2 separate regions of the Homo sapiens genome follow, and region 1 is linked to region 2. A link means that fine-mapping ties the variant in region 2 to the expression of a gene that starts in the linked region. Tissue or cell type: subcutaneous fat. Region 2 holds a variant in brackets; the other region holds the start of a gene. All regions are shown on one strand. Distances are between the middles of the regions.

Region 1 (5,107 bases), 220 kb after region 2:
GAGTGCAGTGGCAGGATCACAGTTCACTGCAGCCTCGACGGCCCTGGACTCAGGTGATCCTCTCACTTCCGCCTCCCAAGTAGTTGAGACCGCAGGCCTGTGCCACCATACCTGGGCTAATTTTTGTATTTTTTTTTTTTTTTTTTTTGTAGAGATGGAGTCTTGCTATGTTGCCCAGGCTGGTCTCAAACTCCTGGGTTCAAGTGCTCCTCCTCCCTTGGCCTCCCAAATTGCTGGGATTACAAGTGTGAAGATCCTGGAATTTCTAGGACATAAATGATTGTAAATGTTTTATCTTGTTGTCAGATCATGTGACCTGACTTCTCAGAAAATATCTACCTTATCTGTGGCCTCCACTTCCTTATCATTCAATTGATAAAACCTTTAATCTGAATTTTCTATTATATATATATTCTGAATATGTAGTTATATATTATATATTCTATTATATATATTCTGAAATTATATTTTCAAAGATGCCCTTATTATCAAATCTGATAGTCTTTATTCCCCCTTCTGTTTTACTTAACTTCTTTTCCATTCTATTCATTGGCCTTTCTTCTTTAAATATTAAGGATTCTAGAGACCTAGAAATTTAGTCTCTAGAAACTTAAGGGCTCTGGGCCTTGAATTTACTACCTATGTATGTGCTTCCAATAGCTTATATTTTTGTCTCCTTTCATGAATCCTTCTTAGCCCATCACCAGCCTCATTCTTCCAAATCGTAAATGGCCTTCCTTATGGGCTGCTTGAGCCACACACATTTCTTAAAGGCTCAGAAATACTCTGTTTGCATATCCACTTCCATTCCTCAGTTCTAGGACTCCTCCAGACTGAATTATTGCCTTCCCCAAGCTTTCGTTCAACTCATACCTTCTCTTTACAGCTTGCTTTGCCCACAGTAATTTATTTTCCTTTAAATTCTCAAGCATTTGACCCTCACTACCTCATACTGTTAATTAACTTTGTGTTCGTATCTCACCCCCCTAGAAGAATGCAAAATCTCTGAGGATTAGCGCTGTACTTTAGCTTTTTATTTTTTTGCTTGGTAGGGGACAACGAACATAATGCTGAACACATATTTGTTACCTAAAAAAGGCACATGTTCCATGATGTCAATGTAATCTTGTTTAGGTGAGTATATTCAACTTTTTTCTTTTATCCTTTTTGGCTGCTGTTTGTGAGTTTGATCATTCTTGTTATAAAATTACCACATGTAACCTTTTGAGAAGCATTAGAAGAATTAAAAGATGGCAAAAGCAGGCCTATAGGAAATAGTGGTAATGGATACGTCCAAGGTTACTACTATGGGCCACTGTGCTCTGCATTGCAAGATTTGTTTGAACATACTCAAGAAATTGAAGTTCAGACAGGTTAATTTATCCAAGGTCCCACAAAAAGTAAATGGCTGTGCTGAGTTTCAAGGACCCATGTCTGCCTGGATCCAAAGGGCAAGTCAGTTTCAGTGCTGGATGACTGAGAATTACAAAATTTCTTGAAAAAGCACTAGGCACAATAGTTGGCGTTCAACAAACGCTCACACACACATCTGCCCTGGAATTGGGTCTACTTAAACAGAAGGGGGAAAAAAAGCTTGCTGAAATAATTATACTTCTTCGTAACTACCAAGCTCATGTTTGACTGACTATAGTAATCCTATGCCCTCCTTCACATTGACGCTAGAAAAAATGCCTGGCAGTATTTCAAATCATGATGCCTATTTTTCTCTCGATCAAGTAACAACTCAAATTATACTTTAAAAAGAAAAAAAGCAAATTATAAAGTTGCATTCAGCTGACAAGAGACTAAAGGAATCTGTGAAACAGAATTTATTTGATGCCTAGGTTTCTCCCTCACCCGACGAAGACCAAATGCTGCTGATCCGTAAGTAACTTCGCAAGGTAAACTGAGGGGCCTGGCAGCATCTGGGCCTCCCTTAAAGGTCGAAATCAAGTGCGCTCGCCCTCCTTCTGTCCGCCTTTTCCCTTTAAGGTCCTCGAGGCTGCTTCGCTGCAGAAAGTAACTCCGCGTCGCCGCCGCGGAAAGTGGGGCAACTTTGCCTATCAGCAGAAACCTTTTGATCCATCTGAGGCGACAAACCAGACCAAACGCCCGCCCAAGCTGTTCCGAGCCTCCGGGGGGAGAGCGAGCCCAAGCTCCTCTGCACCGCTTCCTCATCCGCTCGCTGCACCTGGACGCGGTCGGCGCGCGACCCCCGGCCGTGACGTCACCGCACCTGGCAGCAGCCGTGGGGACCGGGAGAGAGCCCGAACGCGACGGGGCGGGGTGGGGCGGGGAGAACGAGGGCGTTCTCGCGAGATTTGCCTCCTCCCGGTCCCAGCTCCCCGCACCTTCTCGGCCTCTGTCTGGGTCCCCACCTTAGTCTACGGTGTCGCCTTTTCTAACTGCGAGTGCTAAGGAAGAGGCGAGGGGCGGGCTCCGAGGCTAGGCGGGCGCTCGGGGTTGGAGCCGAGGGTCTGGGCAAACCGGTGGGTCCCTCCCCACTGCGGGAGCGGCCAGGGTGGGAAAACCGCGGTCGGGCGGGCGGGGTAGGGCCCTCCCGCCGCCGTGGCTCCTGGGGAGGCCAGGGGTGAGGAGCTGTCGCCGCCTTTGCCTCTGCCTCGAGGGCCGCGCTGAAGAGACTGGTAGGAGAGCGCCGCGGGCGGATGGAGGCGACTCTTCGCCCCGCCTGAGCTCAGGAGGGGCTAGCGCGGAGCGCGGGTCCCGCCTCCAGCCGCGGGAGCGGCCGCGCGAGCCACCACTGGAGGAGGAGGAGGAGGAGCGGACGTCGGCTTCTCCCCGCGGGAGCCCCCAGCATGGGTAAGAGACTCGGGCGCTTCCCGCCGCCCGTCCGGACCTTCCAGACCCGGGGAGGCTGTGCCCTTTCTCGGCCTTCTGGGGAGGCGACTGCGGTCAGCCCCTGAGCGGCAGCACCCCACCCTCTCCATTCTCCCCACCGCCCCTTCTTGCCCTGCCTTCCACCTTGCTCTTCTCACGGAGAAACTGGTGGGAGAGCTCGCGGGTGCTTTCCCTCGCTCTCCCTTCTCCGCCTCTTTTCCTGTTCACCAGAAAGGTGCGGGATGGGGGGCGGGGGCGCCTGGCCACCTCTGCTAACCCCTTGCCCAGCTAAAATCAGACCTGACCTTCCTTCCCTTCCTCATCCCCTTGCTTCCCTCCCCCTCCTCGTGGGATGGGGGAGGGCGATCGAAAAACTTGATAAAGTAGCACTTTCAACTTCTTTATTTTCTGCGAGGCTTTGAATACGTTTAAGGAGAGAGATAAATTTGTTCAAAAACTTTTTTTTTTTCCTGCTGAAACTCGCAAGGGGTGCCTCAAGGACAGGAAAGCTTGAGTATTTGTTTTACTCGGGTTCTACCTAGGCAAGTGTGTTGGCACCTAAGCATTCAGTGTGCTCCCGAGGACTGGGTTTGGACTTCAGTGTTGGATCCTTTGAGGAGCAGTTTCCTGTTTGGAGTTAGACTTCCTTGCCGGAGGAGAGAAAAATACAAGGCCTTATATGTTATTTACTATGTGCTTTATAGTTTTGTTTGAAGTTAGAGAAGGCAGAATGTGTGGCAGTCCGGGTTGAAAAGGAGTTTTGTTAAGTGGTGTAACAATTTCTTTTGATAACAAAGTTCGGTGTGGGCTAGGCATTAAACTAACTCCCTCAATCCTTTAAAAATTAAAAGCAACTTAAGAATAGCTTACAAAAAACAAAACACCCTGTGTCTCTATAAGGCAGAACGTGTTCTGTAAGAGTAAACCCAAGTTTGATTTTTGTAGAGCAAATCAGGAGGACCCTATCACTTTTTGCAGTTGAGAGTTGGTACTGCTTCATATCAACAAACGATCACCGAAATGAATAATTCATGTAATTAACAAATGATTTAGAAGCAGGACGAATACAGACTACTGCTGATGTGGCACCCTCTGTCCACACTTTGCTTTGTGGGGGATGTTTTGAGCATATTGTTTATAGACACTCGCCTAGCTATCCTCTGTTTTCTTAGACTTTTCTAATTTTATGTTCCCTTCTCCACCTCCCTCCTTTCAGGTAACTTTCATACTCAAAAGTGCTCTTGAGCTCAAAAACAGTGAAATAAAACATTTGCTATTTGGAATTTTCAAATGAATTATTTTATAATTGATTAGTTGAGCTTGCAGGGCAATTGTGGGCATATTCTTTTAAGTATGAAATTATAAAATCACTTTAACTGCTTTGGATTAAGATAATACTAAAGTTAATTACACAGTTCTTTTCTGTCTTAAATGGGATGCAGAATAAAATTAAACTACTTTGGATGACCTGGGGATGCAGTCTTGTTTTGCATATAGGGCTTTTGAGCTAAATTCTAAATAATATTTGTTCGCATTTTGAAATTATTTAAATACTTTTTTTTTTTGCTTTGCTTTTGGATGTGCTTGTAACTGATTAGTGTCCCCCATCATCTTTCCTTTTCTAATTTTTTTTTAGAAGTGTGGAAATCATATTCAGGTTTGTGATTCTGCATAGGGGAAAAATCAGTAGGCCGTTACTTAGTGTGTGAGGTCGTCTCTGGAGAAAAGTAAATGTGTACCAATACTTGGACATTGGAATACCTATTTTGATTGTCCAGAGGCTTTTTCTTTGTGATTTATTTGTTGTGTTCTGTTTAGGTGAGTTTTCATATAGACTTGGATATCAATGTTGGTATACTCTCGACTACTTAGAATGTGTTTTGAAGGTATGTTACTGAGGGCATTTGTGGTTAAGTTTTTGTAAAGTGTTTGTGAAACATTTCCATATCAATATATATATTCTTTAAGTTTATTGGTCATGTAATAATAAAATTCCCAAGTTCACTTAAAGGGAGTTTGCTCTTTAATATAAATCTCATTTATTTGGTTTTACCAGCCATCCTTTTTTCTTATGATTTTAGATGCAGCCTAAAATATTTACATGATATTTTATCTAATTTGTCACAAAATGAAAAAATCTGAAATTTTTTTTGTGTGTAAGATAATTTGGATGCCTATTAAATGGTGGTTCTTAAGTTTAGGTGGTACAGCTAGAGAGTTAAAAGCATGGGCTCTGGACAGAGACTACTTGAGGTCAAATTCTCTTCTA
Region 2 (5,210 bases):
CCAGCGCTGTCTGGCTCCAAAGCCAGGGCTTATTAGCTATAAAGAAATCACACTCCTGGGTCCCCTCAGTTCCCATCTGATGTGCTCCACGGAACAACCCAAGGAGGAGAATCAGTTCTGTCATCAACTGCCGCTAGCACCACCTGCATCCTCAGGAGGCAAGAATGCTGCCTTCATAAGCCACATCACAAAAACACCCTCTGGAGGAGAGGCGGTGTAGTAAAAAGTATTTTTTCTTGGTTTTGTTCAAAGTGTGTCATGCAAAATGGATTGTAAATGGAGTAACAAAGAGAGCTTTTACAAATACCGATTCACGCTCTGCCCCCTGGAGATTCTGATGTGACTGGTCTGCAGGTAGGGTCTGAGCATCAGTATTTTTTTTTAAAGTTTTCTAGATGATTCTAATAGACGGCCACTGAGAACCCCCGTCCTAGAAGGTAGGGTGTGTGTGTGTGTGTGCAGGCGTATGCGTGTGTGTGTGTGTGTGCCTATCCACCGAATATGTTATTTTTCTTTGTTCCCATACAACTGATAAAATTTGAAGCATAGGGGCAATAGGTCGGTGGTAATGACACACAACAAGGGCTCCATTACCTGGGTGGTGTCTTCCATCAGCCCACGAATCTTCTCCACAACATCGTTTCTCCGGTGCTGGCGCAGGGCGCTAATTAGCTGGGCGAGGCTGGCCTCGGGGCCCCGGATGGTCCAGTGCTGCAGAGCTGCGTAGGCCCGCTCGTGGTCGGCTGTGTACCCATTGGAGAAAGCAGCAACCTCCCTCTCACTGGCATTGCAAAGAAACTGATAGATATCTTTCCACTGGCTTCCCACTTGGGCTGCTACAAGCTTCAGGATATCGATACCTACACCAGAGAAAAAATAAAAAACAAATGAGGGCTTGTAAGGGAAGCTTCTTACATAAGGCAGCTCTGCTTTAATGAATGAACTAGAAGAGGCACGCTTTCCTATCGCTGTATGTCAAAGGAATGCATTGCCTCCCTTAAGCACTTGGCACAAGCAGCTCATCTTGTGGACTAGCTGGTACCCTCATACAAATTTCACTTCCTGAGTGTGGAACCAGAAGAAGGAATGATCATGGAATTATAATAAATCAGACCCAAAAAGATGTTTCGAAAGCCAAACCCAAATAAGGTATTCACGGTGATTCCTCTGTTACTATAGTAATACACCCTTGTTGAAGGAGAGGGGTGGATAAGTTCCAAGATCCCCAGTGGATGCCTTGAAGCCATGGATGGTACAGAGCCCTATACATACTACGCATGAATTTCTTTTTCCTTCTTCACAATGTATGGATAGAAGATTCCTTCTTCTTGTAGATCTTAGCAACCTCAGCATACAATTGACTTTTCTTATTAAGTGGGGAACTTTCATGTTTTCACTTAAAGGAAGCACTTTATGGCCGCTGGCATATCCAAATTATCAGCATCACTCCTCTCGAGCTTTGGGCCAATATTAAGTAAAATAAGGGTGACTTGAACACAGGCACTGTGGTACCAGTACTGAGACAGTCAATCTGATAACCTAGACGGCTACTAAGTGACTCACAGGCAGGTGAGGTCTCCAGCATGGATATGGTGGACAAAGGGATGATTCCCTTCCCCAGCAGGACAGAGCAGGATGGTACGGGAATGTGAGATTTGATCGCATTACTCAGAATAGTGCATAATCTAAAACTTATGAATTGTTTATTTCTGGAATTTCCCATTTAGTATTTTCGGACCACAGTGGACCACAGGCAACTGAAACCTTGGAAAGCTAAACTGTGGATAAGGGAGGACTACTGTACTAAATACAATAGTAACCAAGTAAGTTAGAGGCTCCCATCTAAAAACATGGTGACTTCATGACATTTAGAAAAAGGGAAGCTGCAAATTAAAACTGTAATGGACTTTACCCAGAACTGTCTAGGTAAAAGGTTTTCAAATTCTGGGAATGGTGTCCTTTATATCAACTAACAGTGTGCCCAGCTGTTCCAGGCCAATAGAAGCATTCCTGAAGAACACCTAAGTTGTGCTCAAATTCATGTTCAACAAGCAATTTTCTAATTCATTATTCAGTCTTCCAACTTGGCTTGCATAGTTATAATGAAGACAGCAGCCAAAATGACTGTATAATAACAATAGCTATTATCTTCCAGGTATTATGTTAAGGCATTAGCTCACTGAACATCTTTATAAGGCATTAATATTCCAATTACACAGGTAAGAAAAAAAATACACTTAGAAAAGTTAGGCTACTGGCCCAGTATCACAAAGGTAGGTGAGTTGGTTATTGAACCCAACTCACCAGTTTTGTAATTCAAATCCTGTATGTGTAACCACTATGAAATGTGACAGTATCGATGGTACCTTCCAAGATGAAGGAAATGCCTTGGCTTATAATGACTATGGCTGGTTAGTCTGACAGACAGCTGTCCCCAATGATTCAATATATTATCATCCTGGCTCAGCAGTCACTTGAAAACCCAGTGAGTGTGCATCTGTGGTCCCCAGATCTGATGAACAGATGAAATGGTGATGATGAAATTGGTGAAATGCAAAAATCAAATCTCAAGATCCAAAAACTCAGGATAAGCACCTGGCACCAACCGTTCGTGAGGGGAGGCTCTCCCTGAGTAGCTCACTTTGGTGTCTCTCTGTTTATGGCGTCTTCTCTCTGCAATTACACATTGGCTTTGCCAGGATTTACATGTGGGATGCATATATCACCCTTATAGTAAGGGCCCTGGTATTTTACTACAACGGGTGAGTGAGTCCTCTGAATCAATGTCATGTCTTTGGTTTTTTTTTTTGTTTTTTTGAGATGAAGTTTTGCTCTTGTCAGCTAGGCTGGAGTGCAATGGTGCCATCTCGGCTCACTGCAACCTTAACCTCTCGAGTTCAAGGGATTCTCCTGCCTCA[C/T]CCTCCCAAGTAGCTGGGATTACAGACACCCACCACCACACCCAGCTAATTTTTGTATTTTTAGTAGAGATGAGGTTTCATCAGTGTTGGCCAGGCTGGTCTCAAACTCCTGACCTCAGGTGATCTGCCTGCCTTGGCCTCCCAAAGTGCTGGGATTACAGGCGTGAGCCACCATGCCTGGCCAATATCATGTCTTTGAATGAGGTCACGCTCACCTGCCCTGATAACATAGCTGTTATAGTTAACAATATCTTAAAAAATATTTACTACTCAATAAAAAAAAATAGGGTCACATTCCCAAGTGAGGCTTAGGAGAGAAAGGAAAAGAGAAGAATAAAGAGGGGTTTACTGTTCTGATTTCTCAATCAAAGGTTTCCTAGAAAAAAAATAAAAATATTTTTTGCACCCATCAGTTGTTCAGGAAAATATTTATAAAATGAGCTATCAATTATTGCTAATAAAAACAATAATAATTATAAAAGTTTCTGTAAAAACGAAGGACGCTGTGGCTCCTCAACACGCATTCTTACTTTGCCAGGCAATCCTATTGAGGCAGATGATGTGGAAGACTGTATACACATTCTGCACCAATCCACTGAAAATGGTTTTCAAAAATCAGTTCCTAGTAGAAGGCTGTTTTCCTGTCAACTATAAAAGTAGAATGGATGGGCAGGGTGGCTCACACCTGTAATGCAGCACTTTGGGAGGTTGAGGCAGGTGGATCGCTTGAGTCCAGGAGTTTGAGACCAGCCTGGGCAACATGGTGAAAACCCATTTCTACAAAAAATACAAAAATTAGCTGGGTGTGGTGGCATAGGCCTATATTCCCAGCTACTTGGGAGACTGAGGTGGGAGGATTGCTTGAGCCCCAGAGGGGAGGTTGCAGTGAGCCAAGATTACACAACTGCACTCCAGCCTGGGTGAGAGAGGGAGACTCTATCTCAAAAAAAGTAGAATGCCACAAAAAATTTAAAAAGGATGCCACAAATTGAGTCATTACTGTACTTCTCACACAGTTTTCCCTGGCAGTGTGAAGTTACTTGAACCAAGTCCTTTTCAGTTTTCCGAGCAATGTTTAGTCAGATACAGAGCTTTTGATTTCAAGCAAATAGACTCCTCAGAAAACCCATAACTGATTTTAAACCCTGCAGGTAACTTTAAGGAATAAGCCAGCTCTTTGTGATTGATGTGGTAGACTCTTCCAAACACCAAAAGTCTTGTTAGTCCCTGAATCTTAATTTAGATCAATTTGACTAAGGTCCACAGTGTCTTACATGAAAACATGACCATGTTTTCTGGTAAGTAGGACCATTGCTTAAATCTTCATAATGCCGATGACAGTGGCTTTGGGCAAACCTCTAACTGTCATGTCCATTTCCTCATGTGTACAATGGAGAAACTCACTAGGGTCACTGCGGATAAGCTGATTAACATTTTCTATAGAGTTACTTTATTTTTGGAAGTGTTCCCATCATTATGAAAGCTCCATACACAGAGGACTAAACTTAAGGCTCAATGCATTTCAGATGCAAATACACGGCCTTTACGAAGTAATTACAGAGTTTAAAAGGTTTAAGTTTAACAACCCCTCCTTCCAAAACCCAGTACTGTATTTATCCTTTTTTTAAGCCACAAAATAAAGAAAAAAAGAAAAAAAAACCCACAAAGAATAGATACAATGAAATTTCCCTAAACTAAAATGGACTGGAAGCTAAATTTAAGGCCTACAAATCAGGTTTCATCTTGTTCTCTCTCTCAGCTAGATTCTCTACTATGAAAACATGGAGTCAACTCCATGAACTGGCTGGGGTCGCCAATGTTCTTCACTGCTGTCCTCTCCCACCGTGGAGTTGATAAATCAAAGATAAATCAATGACTCCCTCAGGGGATACCAACCTTTTAGTCTAGCACATTATCACAAAACCCCAGTGAGGAGACCAGACTGGGGCTTTGAATGCCTTCCTTGTGTAGGAAAAAGTGTTAGTCAAAAGAAAACAATCAACTACAGAGAAAAGCAGGAGGACGATTTGCCAAATTGAGATAGTTACCTCTTTGGGGAGGGGGAAGGAGCACAGAAGGGATTTCAAAGGTATTCATAAAGTTCTGTTTCCTAGGCTGGACAGTGGAGAAATGGGTTTTCTTTTCATGTTATTACTTTTATTTGAGATTTATTTTACTATTCCTTTTTAAACTATCTATATAACATACACATATATAAGATGTGTTTATAAATACTTCATAAATACACATGGTTAAGTGTTCAATTTTGTTGGCAAGGAAATCGCATGTTGG

Direction of the effects. Alleles are on the strand shown, and positions count from the first base shown. SD is a standard deviation of normalised expression in the study named.
For the expression in subcutaneous fat of the gene that starts at base 2,361 in region 1, C is the low allele of the variant in region 2 and T is the other (large effect, 1.0 SD a copy in FUSION).

Evidence for each region. PIP is the estimated chance that this variant, and not a neighbour inherited with it, causes the effect.
Region 1: it holds the start of CD2AP, and the variant in region 2 is fine-mapped to the expression of CD2AP in subcutaneous fat (FUSION, PIP 0.95).

What each region holds. Positions count from the first base shown.
Region 1 is chr6:47,475,429-47,480,535 of GRCh38, forward strand. It overlaps CD2AP (CD2 associated protein), which reads left to right and starts at 2,361. Exons shown (of 18, transcript NM_012120.3): 1 at 2,361-2,820. The coding sequence starts at 2,817. CD2AP-DT (CD2AP divergent transcript) reads right to left here and starts at 2,644. Exons shown (of 1, transcript NR_187257.1): 1 at 1,815-2,644. RefSeq lists a silencer at 2,123-2,632 and an enhancer at 2,919-3,645.
Region 2 is chr6:47,252,662-47,257,871 of GRCh38, forward strand. TNFRSF21 (TNF receptor superfamily member 21) reads right to left here. Exons shown (of 6, transcript NM_014452.5): 4 at 595-860. Among named protein-coding and RNA genes, the nearest start is that of TNFRSF21, 55 kb to the right of the region's middle. The variant C/T (reference allele first, on the strand shown) is at 2,919.